4 separate regions of the Homo sapiens genome follow, and regions 1, 2 and 4 are each reported to be linked to region 3. Evidence: microRNA targets listed by miRTarBase, many of them from high-throughput screens and not tested one by one. Region 3 holds a microRNA gene; each other region holds the end of a gene's coding sequence.

Region 1 (3,209 bases), not on the chromosome of region 3:
ATTTTGTAATTCCTGCCGATTTTTTTAGGCTATAAGTATGTGAATTACTTCAAATTTTGAAAACAAAGTGAGCCTTTATTAATATTAGATCAACTTTTAAATCCATATAATTCAAGTCTACAAAAAGTGCAAATAAACTATAAATCCTTTAAAATTTCTTTTAAAAATTAATCTACCTGATTCCAGGAGTGCAAAGATGATTTAATGTGGGAAAATCTATTAATATACCTCATCAAAACATCAAATGAGAACAATTATATGAATGCTTTAATAGATGCCCAAATGGTATACTGTTTAAAGTTCCAGAGCCATTTCTAATTCAAACTCTTTAAAAACTAAAAGAGAGACACTGTCTTTCAGATAAAGACTATCTAACTCCCAACAGCAAACTTAAAACTATGGACATTCCCATTAAAATAAGAAAAAAAAATGTCTAACATCATTATTGTTAACATTGTCCTAAACATTTCAGATAACAAAACATGCAATAAAAGTGAAATAAAACTATCAGAAGAAACACTATCATTATTCACTGATGATACTGAAGTTTTTCCTAGAAAACCCAGAACTTACTGAAAAAAGTATTTGAATTAAGTGACTACACACCAGGAAAATATCAATTTATCGTCTGATAAGACTATTAAGTATATACCTATCATGTCTCTCCACATATCTCCACTACTATTACCTGGACTCTAGTTAGAATCACTATTATTTTTTTGTCTGGATCACTGCATCAGGCTCCTAATTGGACTGGCTTCCCTATCTCCAGCCTGGTGAGATTTTACACACTAAGGAGATAGTGATGTTTCTAAAACCAAATCTGATCATGTCATTCCTTTGCTTAGATCTTCTCATCGATTCTTATCATATTTAAAGTAAGATCCAAATTCCTTATTATAGCCTTATTTATGTGGCTCTATACAACGAGGTCTTATATACAGAAATGCCATTCTTGACACTCTAGCTGCATTGTCCTTTTTGTTCCTCAAACATACAAAAGAGGCTTTATGTTTGCTATTCACTCCACCTAGGATGTTCTTTCCTTGAATCTCACAAGGATAGCCCATTCTAAAATGTCAATCACATGTTATCTTAAATGTTACTTCTTTAAGAGGTCTCTTTGGCCGTGCAGCTTATAGTGGTACGGTGCGGCACAGTGCAGTGGTATAGTGGTGAGCATAGCTGCCTTCCAAGAGGTCTCTTTGATCGTCCAGTCTAAAATAGCCACTCATTCACTATCTCATAATCACCCTACTTTAATTTCCTCCACAGAATCTAAAACTCATGGTCTGATACTTTCCCTGGACATACTTAGTATCTCCTCCCCACTAATGTCACCTCCATGAGAGCAAGAACTCTGTCTTAATAACTGCTTATCTCCCAACACTTAAGTGTCTGACACATAAGAATCACCAAATAAACATTTGGATTTTAATTGTCTGTCATTCTCAAAAGACTATAAGCTCTACTAAACAAGAACTAGGCCTATTTTGTTTGTTGTTCTCTCTCTAAGACTCTGGCACAGGGTATACATTCAATATCGAATGAATGAATGAATCCCTTCCCTTCCTATAGTCCCTAGTATTCTAAGACTGGGCAAACGTTTTTGGTGATGTCAAAACATTGCTAGTCTATAATGAGCTTGTAGCCAACTGATACTGTAACTAAATCAATTTATATGAATTATATAAAATTAAATATCTCCACCTCTATCCATTCCCCAAATTCTACACTGATGTAACTGACTTCTTAGGCTAAACATAGAGCTTTAAGTTTGATGGCCTTCTTGAAATTAACTTTTAAAATGCCTTTGTCAAAAAATACTTATAAGAAAATAATGGGGCAAGGAAGTTAAATCTTTTAAGCCCTGACCCATAAATTATTTAAGTAGCTGGCAGACAAGAGACCTTCTTTAAAGTGATATTAACAAAAAAAAAATTTGAGGTACTAAAAAGTTAATCTAACTTGTCAGTGTATACAGAAATGACCACTCTTTGCTGAAACTAACAAAGCCACAAAGAACTGCCTCTTAAGTGTTTAAGATACTGCATCACCATTTTGATTACCCAAGAGTTACTCATTAAATATGACACAGAGTACATAGCTGCTGGTTTGCAGGCACTCTTAAGTATCTAATTACTTCAAACAAAAGGCTACATTCTCAATTTTTTATATTTTGTTTTTATTCAAGAGTTACTCACAGGCAGCACTTTAAAATTAGGCTTTTTAAATTAAAGGCCAAAACTAAAAAAGTTTGCAAATATGACATTACTAAAAGAATGATAGCCTTAATAATTTAAACTCTAAAATGTCCGTCCTGTGGAGTTAAGGTCTTTATACACAGAATGTGTAAGATCGATATCATTTAAAATAAACAACTGAAAAACCACAGATGGTGGGTAAATTTGTCAATGAAGATAAACATCAGTTTCAGCCTTCTAGAGTATGAAAACCGGCAATTAATTAATCCTGTGACAGAATATAAACTGTACTTCAGAATTTTGACTTTAAAGTCTCTTTCTCCAGCAGCAAATCAGCATATCTATGTTGAAGTTCCTTTTCTCTTTCTTGTTGTCGCTGAACGTCTTCTTTTAGACACTTAAAGAAAAAAAATTAAGTAATTATTTTAGATGTAACTATACTGAAAAAAATCTACAGTACTTTATTATCTTAAAAACCAGCTGAGTTAAATCATGATTCTTAAGAGTTAAATATTTCTCAAAGAGAAACAAACATATCAAATACTTTTGCTATAAAACCAGTATCACAGCCATTCTTTGATTTGGTCATATGAAATCCTGCTGCTACTTCAAATAAACAAACCACTACTGTCTTATCAATACCCACAAATGCACTTCAAGAAGCCCTGACTGCCCTTTAGCTGGACAGGAGCTATTATGCACATTTGGGAGATAAATTCAATCCAAACCTGGTCATAGGAATTTGATGGTTTGGAAGGACTAGCTATGTTCCCAGCAACATAAGGTATAAAACAAAAAGATACTGGTTTAGTTTCCCCTCACTGAGCTACATGAATGGGATGCAATTAAGTTTCAAGGGGACAAATCACAAGGGCTAAGTATTCCATTTCACAGTGTATCTACATATTGGAAACAGAAAATGAGTAAGGGAAGGCCTTTGTATCTACAACTTGCCTGGTCTATCCATCTACACAGAGGCAATTCTAGATTAGAAAGTCAAACACT
Region 2 (3,000 bases), not on the chromosome of region 3:
TGCATGAAATCATACTGTTTTATATCACATGATAAACACCAATAGCAGGGGGCGAGTCTTCTAGTACCGACTGAGGAGATTCCCTATCAAGAAACTCACAGAATTTTTTAAGTTTGTGTTAGGTAAACTACAAATATCTGAAAGTATTTCAACTTGTTAGGTTTTACACTCAAAAGGATAAGATTCTTTTGTTTCTTCCTGGTTAGGCTTTTTAGAAATTTCAAATCCCACAGCCAAGCTTGGACATATCTTGCCCATATCTAAATCAAGAGATTATAGCTATTGTTTGGTTTTAGAAACTTTGGTGCTATCAAGCCTAAGTATATGATTAAATGATATTAAATGCCAAACAATAAAAAATACTTCCCACAGGTATATATAGAGAGAGAGATTTTAAAATAATCATACACAACTTTTTAAAAGATTATATGGGGAATACTTACTTATGTAATCAACTCTAACTTTAGCCCTTCACAGCTGTATTATAACTTTATTTAACAACTTAGTAAAAGTCAAAATTGATGGTTCTTAACATTGTATGTTGAGAATATAAAGTGCCTAAAAAAGACACATTCTGCCCAATGCTAGTTCTTTCAATATTACCACCAAACTTCTGTGAAAGACTTGTAATGAAAAGAAAGACTAACTGCAACATGGAAGATGATTTTTAAAAAAGTTCATTTGCCAATTTTAACAATCTAGAAAAAAAGAAAAGTCTGACTATAATACTTGATGACACAGACATTATGTTTAAGTAGAAAACACAAGAATAAAAAAAGCAATTATCAGAAAATATTGCACAACTTCAGTTGTTTCCTCCAAATTTGCTTTATGTACTTGGGTGGATATAAATTAATAAACAGAAATTTAAGCAAGATACATGTAACAATTTAACAGAACCTGATAATCTAATTTCTTTCAATTTTTCTCAAATTCATCTTTAAGTCTTTCCATCATGGGGCTCATAAGGAAATTTAAGCAACATATGGATACTACAGTTGAATGTCAAATCTTTACAAAGTACTTATGACATACTACATTCCTCTATAATGCAATTATGAATAACCTTCATGACACTGTGTTTTGTATGTAGAAAACTGTTAGAGTTCAATATTCAACTCAATATAAAATAATAATAAGAAACACTTCTGATGTTAGGTTGAGACCACTTTTCCTTTTGCTAATGAATGATTTTTTTAGCTGTAATATCACTGAGGTGAACCAATAAGTCACCTTTGAGTACATATGAAAAAATAAACACATGCTAAATGGATAAAACATTACTACTACATCTTTACTAGACCATCTCTACCTCTAACACTTCAGAAGCTTAGAGATTTAAAGTATTCTTACATTAACTGCAAGAAACAAAGGAGAAATTCCTTCTTTTTTGAGATCACAACTATGAAGTCATATGGTTATACAAATTCTGCGTTTGTGTGCAAAACATAAAATACAATTATCTTTATTCTCCCTGCTTAGTTTTGTCAGTCAGCTAGCAGGATGTAATAGATACCTTTCCAAGAAACAGAGACTGAGATGTGTTTTGTATAACTTCAATAACCTCAGCACTACAGTAATGAGAGATGCAGTATCCTTTTGCTATGGTTCAAGACAAGAGGCAAGGAGGTCAGAAGAAAGAGAATAAATCAAAATTTTTACAACTGAGTAACTATTTCTCATTAGGTCTCACCACGGTGCCACCTTCATTTTTACATAAACGTGGTGGCATAATTCAATCTCAATAAATCAGAATTCTTAATATTTAAAATTTAACTTGACTTTCCATTATCACCATATTAACAACCAAAATAATTAGATAAAACACATAGGAAAGGGTAATATTAAACCCCACCTTAATAGAGTTGGTTTCTTGACACATTAACTTATTTTTTATAGAAAAGGGATAGTGCATCTCAGTTTGCTTACAAGCTAGGAGATCACTTTGAATTCTGCATTTCCTAACTGCAAACAGAATATAGCACTTATAACAGGTTATAAATAAACTGGTTTTCAAGCATAGAGCCAGCCCCAACGATAATAATACACTATTTAAAAAGACCTAAGGCAATGAATTCCATTTCCAATGGAAAAAAAGAACTGTGCAAACAAGCTTAAAACTACTTTTTTGTGTGTGCCAGTGTTATAAAATGTAGCTTTTAATAAAACCTTGACCCAAATGCCAGCAACTTCAGAAAAGAATTCGGGTGGGGAAGGGGAAGAGAAGAAAGTTATTTCATTTAGGAAAAATAACTACTATCTTTTTCCTAATCTTCAATACACACAATTTAAACAAATACAGCTGCTGTTAACACTTTACACAATTCCTATGTACTGGAGCAATAACAAGATCTAAATACAATTATATTTTTAAACATTGGGTCAAGGCTTTACATAAAAATACCATCCTACTTTTCCCACTAAGTTTCTAAAATATCACGTACTTTTTCCCCCAACATCTGCAGCCATCCAGGAATTTTAAGGAAACTTTTGTGCACGATCTTAATTCCTAATCCCTGGCTCTTTGGGCTCAGTGACAAAAGATCAAAACCACCAAAATGGTGGTTCACTTGAAGTCAGATAAGAGACCCTGGCTCAATTAGTCTCATAGGATGAAAGCAGTGCTGCATCAACTGGCTCCATGCAGGAGGGGCACGTGAAGGATCTCATCAACCAGTCATCTATACAGTCCAGGTGATAGATGTGCATGCACGGCAGAAATCGAATTGGGTCCCCATAAACAAAGTCCATCATACAGATCACACACCTGTTGAGAGCAATGGAGAGAAATCAGAAGGCATTTTCAGAAGTGTCCTATTCAGAAAACTCTTTAAATCCCATTAAAGACAGTGTTAATCTGAGTAACACATCAGAATGCTTTGCCTGTCATCTTATTGCCAAAGCATGCAAACTGAATTTTTTCCTAATGTTGATCTGTCCACAGTCTCTTATTTCAATCCCCTGAGAATTTGCAGGACTTAGGAGCAATCAACAGAGCAA
Region 3 (3,000 bases):
AGACTTGATCATACTTAATTTGCCTAAGCATTTGAAAAAAAAATTAATTCTCGGATAAGTTTTTGTAAGTTCGTAAATATAAGAATGCAAGTCTAAAATCCACAGGAAAAATATATTTCTGCTTTGCTAAAATGTCTGCTAAAAATAAAAAACCAAACTAAGTAAGCAGAAATAAATTAAGAAATGGGAAGGAGTCTTGAAAAATCAATCTTCCCAGAGTCGATATTATTAACCACCTCAGAAATAAGCAGCGCAGGGAAAAGTATGTGGCTCCTCAAGGCACTTGGGTCTCTTATGGCTTAGAAGTCCTCTGAATACATACATCAAGGTTTCCCAAAAATATGTCAACGAAAACCCACATAACTATTTTTGTTTGTTTCTTTCTTTCTTTCTTTTTTTTTTTTTTTTTTTTGAGACGGAGTCTTGCTCTGTCACACAGGCTGGAGTGCAGCTTGCTCACTGCAACCTCTGCCTCCCAGGTTCAAGCGATTCTCCTGCCTCAGTCTCCCGGGTAGCTGGGACTACAGGCATGCGCCACCACGCCCGGCTAATATTTTATTTTTAGTAGAGATAGGGTTTCACCATGCTGACCTCAGGTGATCCCACCTCCTCGGCCTCCCAAAGTGCTGGGATTACAGGCATGAGCGACCATGCCCAGTGAAAGCCCACATAACTATTTATCTTCATTTTAATTCTCTTGCTTCAGGGTTAGTGTTAAAAAATTTGAGGTTAGCATATAGGAAGGAAGTCCTCTTACTGGATCAATGCCAAAAGGGTATGGTCCACCAAACACTCCAGGGAGGGCTGGGTTCAGCTGTAGAACAGGGTTCCCCCGAAGCGTCTCTTCACTACCATGACAGGGAAAAAGTCACATTATTTTTGAACAAGAGAGGGAAACAACAAGGGTCCAGAAACTGACCCCAAAATAAATTACTGTAGCTATCTTGTCTCTTCAATAAAATGGGAGGGGAAAAATAAAGAGGAGAGACTAGCAGCTGAGACTGAGGGATCCAAAATGACAAAAAGAAAAATTAAACACACAAACACACAATCAAGTAGGGAACTGGGGAATCTGGTTTTAGTTTCCAAAAAAAAAAAAAATCATTTCTAATCTTAGTTCCTGGATACTTGCTGAACAAATCACAAAGCAACTCACAGTGTGGAGCATGAATGAGGAGACACTGTCACCACTTCCTAAAGAAGTGTCAGTTTACCACTTGTCTTAAAAATCAGGGCTGCACATGAAAGGAATAAGCTTTGAATTTTAGCTTCTTCTGCAACTTACGTCCAATTATAAGTAAACATCGGCCGTACACTCCAGGATGACCCAAAGATATTAAGAGACTTGGAAAAGCAATCATTGTAGATGAGGCCAGTGTACATGGAGAACACACCCATCAATAAAATAATGTATCGACCACTGAACACAGTGCTAAACATCTGGGAACCAGAAGAAAGAAGTAATGAGAATGTACTCACTGCAGCTCACATTGTGACAATGTTATTCAGAATATACCTGCCCCTTTCTCCAGCACTACTTTACCCCATCCTGATTCAGAGAGCTTGAAGTAAAAACCAAAATACAATGCTAATGAGACAGTCACTTTCACAGGATGTGGCCTCTATTTTTTTATTAGGTTGGCACAAAAGTTACTGCGGTTTTGGCCATTTCTTTTGGCAGCCAAAACCGCAATAACTTTTGCACCAAACCTAAATAATTTTTATTTTTTTAGAGATGGGGTCTCACTATGTTGCCTATGCTGGTCTCGAATTCCTGGGCTCAAGTGATTCTCCTGCCTCAGCCTCCAAGTAGCTGGGACTACAGGCACACACTACCACTTCCAGCTTGCACATGTCGTCTTTGGTGTTAAAATGAACATAACTTCTCTACTTCCTTTTGATAAATTCATGGATAAAAGACTTCCAGATCATAATTTTCATAATGAATGCTTGGGAAATTATAAAATTTCAGTTCAATGCAGATGTAACTTAAACATTACCTCATTCTCATTCTTCTGGGAAAGGATCCGGCTCTCCCTCAGTACCATCCACACAGCAAAAAGGGTCATTAAAATGCCATGACCGAAGTCTCCAAACATCACAGCAAATAGAAAAGGGAACGTGATAATAGTATACGGAGCTATGAAGAAACCAAAAAAAGAAAAATACAAAGTACATTAAACCATAGCAATTCCACAAATATTACATTCTTTTCCATACCCACCCCCCTTTTTTTTTTTGAGATGGAGTCTTGCTCTGTCAGCCAGCAATGTCTCAATCTTGGCTCACTGCAACCTCCATCTCCCAGGTTCAAGTGATTCTCCTGCCTCAGCCTCTTGAGTAGCTGGGATTACAGGTGCCCACCACCATGCCTAGCTAAGTTTTGTATTTTTAGTAGAGACAGGGTTTCACCATGTTGCCCAGGCTGGTCTCCGACTCTGACCTCAAGTGATCCACCTGCCTCGGCCTCCCAAAGTGCTGGCATTACAGGCGTGAGCCACCGTGCCCAGGCTTCCATAATCTTAAGATCAATATAAGGTGACTTACTCCCCAGCTGCCAGACAGATAGGACTCTCAGAGAAAATCTTTCATGGCAGAATCAACACATCTTCACAAAGTAGCTAATGAAATTTGAGCTACTGATAACTTTTTTTAAAAGAGAGATGGGGTCTTTCTCTGCCACCCAGGCTGGAGTGCAGTGGTTTCATCACAGCTCACTGCAGCCTGCAACCCCTGGACTCAAGTTATCCTCCCACCTCAGCCTCCCAAACAGTTGGAACTACAAGTATGTGCCACCATGCCCAGTTAATTTTGTTTTAAAATTACTGATAAATAATATTTTTTTAGATGGAATCTCACTATTTTGCCCAAGCTAGTCCTGAACTTGTGGCCTTGAGCAATCCTCCCACCTCAGCCTCCTGAATATCCGAGATTACAGGCATGAGGCACTGTGCCTGGCAGCTCTGATAACATTTCAAACAAAGAACAGTGGAAATGAAG
Region 4 (3,202 bases), not on the chromosome of region 3:
CTTCAATACAAAAACAAAAAAACAAAACAAAGCAATTCCATTACAATAAAAATGAAAGCAATAACAATTTGGAGATCAAAGCTGCCTAGCTCTTGGCAATAATGAGCTATCTGGATTTCACATCTTCCGCTAGCATGGTTCTGCCCGGCTTTGGTAACACCACATGTGGGTAAAACGGTATAAAGAATTGAAGAACTGTGGGCACAGAATCACCCTTACTGCAGATTCTCATTCTTAATATTTCCCTTTAACAGCATTTTGCTGTTCTCAAGTCTCAGAAACTTTATGTGGTGGGATGGGAGGGAACCACCATAACCGCCTGCCTGCCTTTTTTTTTCTTAACTGTTATTGTTCATAATAGAGATGGTGTCTCACTATGTTACCCAGGTTGGTCTCAAACTCCTGAGCTCAAGCAATCCTCCCACCTTGGCCTCCCAAAGTGCTAGGATTACAGGCGTGAGCCACCGCGCCCGGCCATCCTGCCTTTTTGCCAACCTAAGATGAGTTGCCTCAAGCAGCAATAGGGTCTAAAATCTACAGACAAGCCCAGCAATGAAAATCACGGCTTACTGAAGACAGTAACAGCTTAAACCTGGAAAACCGTAAACAAAACATGGTCACTTTCATCCTTTCGCACCTGTCTGGTGATGGTGGTGGTTTTTCTAAGAGGGTAGAGTATTAGAAAAGTTTTGTGGTCTGGTAAATATTGGGTCCATGGTTACACGGCTGATTTAAATCATATCCCCACTCTGGAATACCCTGATAACTTGAGAGCTAACTGGGTAACCACTAACACCACTGAATTTTCAAAGCTCGGACAGAAAAGTCAGCTGAAGTGGTTAATCATGGTGTTACAACTAGACATTTAGTCCTGCTTCAATTCTTGCAGAGCTGAATCAACTCAAGGAACTAAATAAAAAGAGGAAGGCACCGAGGTAAGGGATTTTTTTTAAATGGGATTTTTTTAAAACCTCTTTGATAGCAGAAAGCTCAGGGCTTTCAGGGTGGGGAATTTCTAGGACCCTGCCGGGCAGTCGTGGGAGGCTTCCTTCTCGGCACTGGGACAGGGACCGGACACCCTCTCCATAACCACCTGGGGGAGTAGTCACACGCTGGTTTTTCCCTAGAGTAGAGAAGAGGCAGGCTATTTTTCCACTTTTTAAGACAAAAACAAAATACAGAATGAAACCACAATCTCTTCTCTAATAGGGAAAATATTTTTTCTTTTTCTTTTTCTTTTTTTGAGACAGGGTCTCACTTGCTCTGTCACCCAGGCTGGAGTGCAGTGGTGCAATCTCGGCTCACTGCAGCCTTGACCTCCCAGGCTCAAGAGATCCTCCCACCTCAGCCCCCCAAGTATCTGGGACTTCAGGCACACTCTACCACACTTGGCTAATTTTTATGCTTTTTGTAGAGATGGGGTTTTATCACATTGCCCAGGCTGATCTCAAACTTCTGGACTCAAGTGATCCTCCTGCCTCGACCTCCCGAAGTGCGTGGGCCACCATGCCTGGCAGGAAAATATTTTTTCTCTTCCTCCTTTTTCACTTGACTTGGTTTTGGGCTAAACAAAGTTATGGTGCTTCCCCCACACCTAAGTAAGTTACTTCTATGCTGACACAGCGAATATTGGATATTCCACCCTCTCAAGAGAAAACAGTCAGCAGTTTTTTAAAAACCAAGTTTAAACACATTCTTGCCAGGCTCATTTTTCTTTTCACATTGTCTTCCTTAATATTATCTTCCCTAGTTACCCAGGTTCAGCTGACAACAAACAAAGCTGCAGTAAAACCGTTTTGATCTCAGAAATGGCAGAAGCCCTCCCTGCTGCTAGCTCTCCTTTGTGGGAGGTGGAGAAGAGAGAACATTGGTTTTCAGAGGCTGTGATCCCCCACTCAGCTCCCACTCTACAGGGGATGGTAGAGACCCTGTGCCCCTCTCCTCTCCTTCCTCTGCTTCTCACCTGAGGTCCTGCAACCCAAAGCCAATGCAGTTGCCTCTGTATTCAGCAAATGCCTAGGATCATCATTCACATTTAGCAAAATGCTAATGAGGAACTAATTATAATTCTGTTGAAAACGACCAGGCCCTGAGATACTGTATTATTCACCCACTCACCCTCAGCTGTTTTTCAACTGTAGGGAAGAAAGGGAGGAGAGAGCTTCTTCCCCCAGCCTTGGCGGTTTAAGTAAAAGCCGTCCCCAGGCCTAGAAAAACAGAATTTGCTAAGGCACTTGGGTTTTAAGAGTTTGAGTTGGAAGATGAAACGATGCAGTGGGCCAGGAGCATGGCGGCTGGAGGAGGCTTTGGCTGGAAATCCATCCCACCTGCCTGAGGGTGCAGCTTGTGCAGAGGTGTTGAGGGGTGGGCTGCCAGCCGCTTCTCCACACCGAGGCCCCCACCAACCTGCCCAGCTTTTGAGTGTCCGTGTGAGTGTCCAAAGAGTCTTGATATGGTTCTCTTCACAGTGGCCCAAGTTCACTCTAGCCCCTTTAAGCTGGGCATTTGGAAAGGGAGGTTTGAAACCTCAACCAGCTGAACAGCTGGAGCAGGCTGATTTTCCCCTGGCGTAGAACCTTCCGCAAGGCTCTTCCGTGAAGCCAAAGGCCGCACACCCCTGAGATAAGCTGGCATGGCAGTGAGAAGCATCTTTTGCTGAGCCCGTTTGTGTTTTATCATCCACAGGGTCCAGGCTGCTGGTGCCACCCAGCCAGCTATCTGGGGAAGAAGTAGTCTGTATTGCTGATGTCATAAGGGCTCCGTGGGTCCCTGGCATCTGGTCGGTTGTGGCTCGAGGTATTGTCAGACCCCAGGCTGCTGGGGGACACCGGTGGGGAGATGAGAGGAACAAGCACTGGGGTGGGTCGAGGCCTCTCCGGGACCAGCTGCCCCAAAGAGTACGGCGGATGCATGCTTGTCTTGCCTTCCTTCAGAGCCCGCAGCTTCCACGTCTTCTTGAACCTTCACACAAACACACAAAGACAAACCACACAGATTTTTAGCTCCCCCTGTGACAAGCCCACAGTGGAAAACACCAACAGCTGGCTGCCCTGGTGGCCTGGCGCGCCCAGGTTTCGGCTCAAAGGAGCAATAACTATCAGCTGTCTTTTTGTTTTTTGTTCATTTGTTTGTTTTGAGACAGGATCTTGCTCTGTTACCCAGGCTGGAGTGCTATGGCGTGATCTCAGCTCACAGCAGCCTC

What was found. The annotated mature microRNA hsa-miR-548at-3p reads CAAAACCGCAGUAACUUUUGU and lies in region 3 at 1,644-1,664, opposite strand. An mRNA with a match to its seed (bases 2 to 7 or 8) in the 3' UTR can be bound and repressed. Matches are read on the target gene's strand: a 7mer-m8 pairs with bases 2 to 8, a 7mer-A1 pairs with bases 2 to 7 and ends in A, and an 8mer does both.
Region 1: miRTarBase lists CDC5L as a target of hsa-miR-548at-3p. Seed matches in the 3' UTR shown: 7mer-m8 at 2,452-2,458 and 7mer-A1 at 813-819.
Region 2: miRTarBase lists RNF11 as a target of hsa-miR-548at-3p. Seed matches in the 3' UTR shown: 7mer-A1 at 2,164-2,170.
Region 4: miRTarBase lists IL6R as a target of hsa-miR-548at-3p. Seed matches in the 3' UTR shown: 8mer at 1,787-1,794, 7mer-A1 at 966-972 and 7mer-m8 at 597-603.

The regions. Positions count from the first base shown.
Region 1 is chr6:44,445,999-44,449,207 of GRCh38, reverse strand. CDC5L (cell division cycle 5 like) reads right to left here. Exons shown (of 16, transcript NM_001253.4): 16 at 1-2,601. The coding sequence ends at 2,497. Among named protein-coding and RNA genes, the nearest start is that of MIR4642, 12 kb to the right of the region's middle.
Region 2 is chr1:51,270,918-51,273,917 of GRCh38, reverse strand. RNF11 (ring finger protein 11) reads right to left here. Exons shown (of 3, transcript NM_014372.5): 3 at 471-2,767. The coding sequence ends at 2,596. Among named protein-coding and RNA genes, the nearest start is that of RNF11, 36 kb to the right of the region's middle.
Region 3 is chr17:42,493,474-42,496,473 of GRCh38, reverse strand. It overlaps MIR548AT (microRNA 548at), which reads right to left and starts at 1,701; the gene lies at 1,644-1,701. ATP6V0A1 (ATPase H+ transporting V0 subunit a1) reads right to left here. Exons shown (of 22, transcript NM_001130021.3): 12 at 2,001-2,140; 13 at 1,286-1,440; 14 at 758-848.
Region 4 is chr1:154,464,893-154,468,094 of GRCh38, reverse strand. IL6R (interleukin 6 receptor) reads right to left here. Exons shown (of 10, transcript NM_000565.4): 10 at 1-2,961. The coding sequence ends at 2,715. Among named protein-coding and RNA genes, the nearest start is that of TDRD10, 36 kb to the left of the region's middle. RefSeq lists an enhancer at 2,629-3,130.